Linked DNA regions of Homo sapiens: region 1 is linked to region 2. A link means that fine-mapping ties the variant in region 2 to the plasma level of a protein whose gene starts in the linked region. Region 2 holds a variant in brackets. A gene starts in the other region. All regions are shown on their forward strands. Region 1 holds the start of FGFBP1 (fibroblast growth factor binding protein 1). Region 2 holds the start of PLA2G3 (phospholipase A2 group III).

What was found. A credible set is the group of variants that fine-mapping cannot tell apart. PIP is the chance, under the fine-mapping model, that this variant and not a neighbour inherited with it causes the effect. The UK Biobank Pharma Proteomics Project read protein levels with antibody pairs (Olink). The fine-mapping took linkage between variants from a reference panel, not from the people measured, so its PIPs are less certain.
Region 1: it holds the start of FGFBP1, and the variant in region 2 is the best candidate, but not a certain one, in a credible set for the plasma level of the FGFBP1 protein (UK Biobank, PIP 0.75).

What each region holds. Positions count from the first base shown.
Region 1 is chr4:15,937,502-15,940,364 of GRCh38, forward strand. It overlaps FGFBP1 (fibroblast growth factor binding protein 1), which reads right to left and starts at 1,239. Exons shown (of 3, transcript NM_005130.5): 1 at 1,186-1,239; 2 at 750-970.
Region 2 is chr22:31,138,523-31,141,428 of GRCh38, forward strand. PLA2G3 (phospholipase A2 group III) reads right to left here and starts at 1,986. Exons shown (of 7, transcript NM_015715.5): 1 at 1,319-1,986; 2 at 145-277. The coding sequence starts at 1,832. RefSeq lists enhancers at 1,490-2,048, 2,049-2,608. The variant G/C (reference allele first, on the strand shown) is at 1,364.

The DNA of each region.
Region 1 (2,863 bases), not on the chromosome of region 2:
ACACTGAACTGCATGAATCTGATCATGTGTACAATAAAAACCCATGCTTAACAGAAGAAGAGAAGTCAGTTTCTATATGACACCTCCTGTGTGCTAAGTACTGGTCTAGGGTTTGATTCCCACCTTGTGAAATCCACACAAGAGCTCTTCCAGGTAGCTATTAATATGTCATCCCAGGTGACAGCTCTGACTCTTAAGGCTCAGACAGGTAAGTAAATTGCTCAGGATCTCATAGTGGGCAAGTTCAAAGCTGGTATGGGTAGCCAGATCAATCTCCTTATTCCTTTCTGTCACCCCTGGTTGATCACTTTTTGCTTTTCACATTTACTCTGCCCTTTAAAAACATTGCCAAAGAATAAGAAAAACAACTATGAACAATGACAATTTAGTTTCATATAACACATAATGATAAGATGATTTGTATTATTTGTGCTCCATTTAAAACAAAACACAGAATTTTTTATAAAAAGAGGCAGACCCAGGAAATGGTCCTGATCTGATTTCTACCCTAGAAGTTGGCCATCTTCTAGGGTTAAGAAGGAGAAAGACAATCACAAAAGGGCAGAGAACAGCAATAAATGGTGAAGAGGAGACTGGATATGCCAGAAAAACACCCAGTCATTTCTCACGGCCCTGGGGCTCAGCCCCCACCTGCCCATGATGGAATGCAGGCCCAAGGAACTCCAGGCCCTTGGTGGAGTGAGAAGTGGCAGCAGGTAATAAAGCTGTTAAAGGAGCGAGGCTCTTACCTTGTTCTGAGCACACGGATCCAGTGCAATCCCAGGCAGTGCGAGTGAATTGCAGGCTGCAGCTGTGTCAGGTAGAGTGCAAGGGGGGTAGACTATTCAACAGGAGCCAGGCTGACTGGGTTTTTATAACACTCACTGGGTTTTTACAACACTGTGGCACGTTACTCACAGCTCCTCCCAGCCACGCCCCTCCGAGGGAGCCGGTTCCTGCAGGGAAAGTGCTGGATGTAATCCAGTGAAAAGGGGGGTTACCTGCATGCCATCAAACGCTTCCTCTAGGCCCTTCCCTGTCCACCCTGTGGCCAGGATAGGAGGACAACTCAGCCTCACAGTGACCCTCCTTGATGGGGAGAGGACCCCAGCAGTGATGTCTATGGAGGAGTAAAATAACTATAATGACATGATCCGAGCTGCCAAACTACTGAGCCCATTTTACCTGAGTTCTCCTTTTCCCTCATCACATCCGCTCTAGTAGGGAGTGCAATGATTCCTCCCCTTTTACAAAAGCAGGAATTGGTTCTGGAGATATGTAAGAGCTTGTCCAAGTTCACAGAGGCAGGAAAAGGAACATCTCAAAATTAAAAGTGAGATTCTCTACATCCATGGTCTGATCTCTTCCTGCCTGCCACTCTCAATAAATCTTTGTTGAATGGGTGACTGAAGTTGCCGAAGTTTTCGTAGTGTCTGAGTTCCTTTTTCCATCTGAAGTTACTACATAAGCAGAGGATACCCTAATTCTAGAGGCAGGGAAATTTACATTAAAAATTCCCTCTTTTTTATCAGGGAATTCTACCAGGCTCTGAGAGGCTGGTAAAGAGGGAATTTTTAATATAAGATTACTGTTGTAAATACTTACCTTCAGGTCTCATTCAGAGAGCTCAGGCTGCCCTGCCTGCTACAGGCACAGTCCCACACCAGAATGACCCAGGTGGAATCCTGGCCACAGCATGTGTTTAGCTGAGTGCTATGCCCAAACCACTTAGCCTCTCCCATCATCCATTTGCAGTGTGCTGACAATAACAACGTCTCCTTTATAGCTGCATACTAAATTTTTACTGGGCTAAGCTGTTAACATAAAGTGGAGCAGAATCGTTTTGCCTCATGACAGGGTCTTAAGTTGTATACTTTGAAAACAGACATTTGTTATTTACATATGCAGCATTTAAAAAGAAACTCACTTCTACAGGGAAGATGTGGCCCTCATTATATATTATCACCTCACCTTTCATAGATTTTCAGAAGAAGAAATTGTTCACTTTTCCTTAATTCAGCCATAAGAAAACTATTGTTTAGTGTGATATTAAATGGCAACTGACTTTTGGGTTTGAGATAAGGCAATAGGGAGTGATGGGGACTGTGGCAAACTAGAGAGTCTCTGCCTCCATAGAGGTCAACACTCATCTCCAATTGACTGAGAAAATGCAGGGATTAGGCTCAGTATTGTCACACTGTCTGATTTTTAAAATGACATCCCCAAATCCAGATGTGTTTATATGAAATTGGTTGGCAGCTAATTAAAATTTTCTAAAAATAAAGCTGTAGCTCAACACTATGCAGGCCAAAACTTGTAACTGTGTTTGGATTTTATGAACGATCCACCTGTTTGAGAATTCCGTGGTCATAGCTATAGATGTTGACCAATTTACTCAGAGGCTCAGTCTCTGCATGAATCTGTTGGAAGAAGCCATTTCTGAAGCTGTGTGCCTCTCTCCTAAAATTGCCTCACCCAGGGGTCCGTCCTCACTATCCTCACAAACACCCCGCTGAGGCCCTGACCTCCACGAACAGGCTCTCTCATGCGGTATTTTGGAGGATTATTTGGACATAGGCAAGGCAAAGCTGCTTTGCTCAACAAGGGGAGTCTCCTACAAAATGGAAAATTCTACTTGATCCTTGGGAGGCAGGCAGATTCTTTCTGGAGGCAGATTGCAGTTGGAACACAAAACATATTTACAAGGAAACATGTGGACTCCGGGGTCTTTCTGGGAAGTGCTTCTCTGAGCTTTGCCAGGTAACACTGCACATTCCCCACTGGCTCCTTGTGGCCCTTCCCCTTCCTGTGACTCCCATCCCAGCGTCTGCTTTGCTCTTTCCCTTCTAGACTCAGCAGCACA
Region 2 (2,906 bases):
TCTGGCCTCAGCTTTCCTACCTGCACTGTGGGGTCCAAGCTGGCTGAGCTTTAAGATCCTCTGCAATCCCAATGTCTAGTTACCCAGGAACTGGGTAACTCTGCCCTGTCCCTGAGCTCTGGGCCCTCGCTGCCTGCCACCAACCTGGTGTCACAGTCACAGTGGGAGATGGTGTGGAATCGGTAGTTTCGGATGCCATAGTTGTACTGCAAGGGTGAGATGTTCTGTGGGCAGCGGTCATGTTCCCGGCAACAGAGATCAGGTCCCTGGAAGACCCCTGCAGGGAGGGGAGGGGAGAGGGCACCAACTCAGCAGGGTCCTAGGCATCATGCACCAGCTATGCCCCCCTGGTAGGAAGAGGGCAGAGACCTGGTTCTCACCCCAGCCCTGACACAAACGCCATGAGGGTCCTCAGACCAGTCACTCTCCCTTCTGTGGGACTCTCAGAGTTTCAAAGCTGGAAAAGAGAAGCCAAGCTGCAGCCTCTGTTGGGCAACTCTAAATGCCAGGTAGCCCACCCATAAATACATGGAAAGGTCTTCCTCAGGGGAATTGGAGTCTGCCTCCAGAGTTCCCAAGCCCACGCCCCAAATAAAACTCCAAAATTATGAATGTGTGTATGATGGAATGGCAAACAGGCAGGGTGCAACCTTTCTCACTGGCACAAGGAGGTGTCGCCAGGATGCCAACCTACTCTGACTCAGGTGCCAAGCCCTCCCCCAACCCTGCACACAAACGCACAGACATCTGTACTGATAGTGCAAGAAATTCATCTATGTTTATTACCATCTAAAAAATAGCACTCTTTACTAAGCATTTCCCACATGCCTGGCACTTCCCACATCCAGGTTCACAGCCAGCCCTGAAAGGGAGGTATCACCTTCATTTTACAGGTGAGGAAATAAGTCCAGAGAGGGGAAGTGACTTGCTCAGCTTGTATGTGCTGAGTTGGGATTTGAACCCAGGCCTTTCGTCTCAGCATCCATTCCACTGGGCACCCCGTGCCCACAAAGCCTCCTCCTGGGTAATGGCTTTTTGGCTCAGTTGACCCTGGATCCTCCCCCAGCCTGCCCAGTCCCTCGGATGGCATTTAATGAGGACTCCCAGGTTTGAATAAGACTTTCCCCAACCGTGACCTCATTTAAGCACCCCATGATGAGATTCGTGATTGCCCCCACTTTACAGATAAGGAAATTGAGGTTCACCATGGTCAAGTCACTCCCCCAGGGACACACAGCCTAGGAGAGTAAGGGCTGGGGCTGAAGAAACCTTGCTTCCCCGATCGGACCCCCCAGCCCACACACCCCTCATGGCTCACCCAGCTCCGAGGAGTTCCCAGCAGAATCTCCAACTCCACACCACA[G/C]TGTGCCAGGCATGGTCCATCCTCTCTTCTCTCGCTGGTGCCCTCCACCAGGGACTCCACTCTGCCCTGCTGCTCGCTTCTTCCTGGCCCCTGCTGGACTCTCCTCAAGCGCTCGGCATGCCTCCCACTGACTCTGAAGAGTGGCCAGTGCTCTCTGCAGCTCGGGTCCGGGGGTGTGGATGAAGGAGCCCCAGGCAGTCTCATGAGCACAGAGAGCACCGTAGGCTGCGGTGAGCTCCGGCTCATCCTCCCAGCTACATGACTGCAGCCTCCTATGCGCATCCCAGCGGGCATGGATCAGGGCCAGTCCCTGAGCATCCTTGGCCAGGAAGCTCAGGTACCCCAGTGGGTTGCCAGGGACGGCCTTGGTCAAGTGGCAGGAGGTCCTGTACCAGCGGAGGGCAGGGGAGCCCCCCAGGGCCACCCCCAGGAAGCCCAGCATCCCAAACAGCCCTGCCTGAACCCCCATTCTGCACTGGCCCAGTCCAGTCAGACAAAGCCCCTGGGATGCCTGCCCTTGGTGGCCCCACCAGGCGGCAGCTGAGCAGTGGAACGGAAGCGGAGCCCAGCAGGCCCGGTGCGGCGGGACCAATGAATGGAGCTGCGGGAGGAGGAGGAAAGAGGCTGGAGTATGGGGTGATCTTGGGCTTGTAACCGAATCCACCAGCCGGGCAGGACGCTGATTGGCTGAGGAGTGCACTTGCCAGGGCCCACGCCCCCATTCTGCCTGCCTTCTCAGCACCATCCAGTCACCTGCTGCCAGCCCTGCCTAGATTGGGACTATGGGAGCCAAAGCCCTAAGCTGTGGGATGGGGACCAGGCTGGGGCTTTCACATCTCCTTGAAGGGAAGGAAAAGGGTTCAGGAGCTTGGAGGAGTCCCTTAGAACCCACCCTTCTCACCCTTACCACAGCGGTGGCTGCCACATCCACCTCCATCAGGCTGGCAGGGGGCCATGGGCCTCTGCCAGGGCTGGGTGAAGGAAGGGCTGGGGCTCTGAAGCTACCACCCTGGGAGTTCCCAAGGCTTCTGGGAAAGGGAGTGCCACCTGGGGTGCTCCCCTGCCAAGTCCTGGTTCTTAGAAAGGCTCTCGGCATACTCAGGGGACAGAGCCCCAGGGCTCCCCGCTTCCTAGGACTCCAAGCATGGGCCTGGCCTTGCAGCAACCCTCCTGGTCTGATAACTGGGGGAGACGCAGCGGGAACAGGCCTTGAGAGCCACACAGGGCAGGGCTGATGCTCTGGATTTGAAAGAACTATGGTCCCTAGAGTGGCAGAGAGTGGCCCAGGGTGTATGTCTGTGGCCACCTCCATCCCTGGCCACCTGGGGGGACACAGCAGGCATCATGTGTGCCTCATGAGACAGGAATCTCTCCATCAGGAAGGGGCTATACCCAGGTATTGTTCCTGGATCCCAAAGCCCAGCTTCCAACCATCTAGTGAGGCCAGGGTGCTTACACCCATAGTGCAGATGAAGAAACTGAGGCTCAGTGAGGGTGGGAAAACCTCAGGTGACAGGCTCCAGCTGGGGAGGGCTTAGAGGAT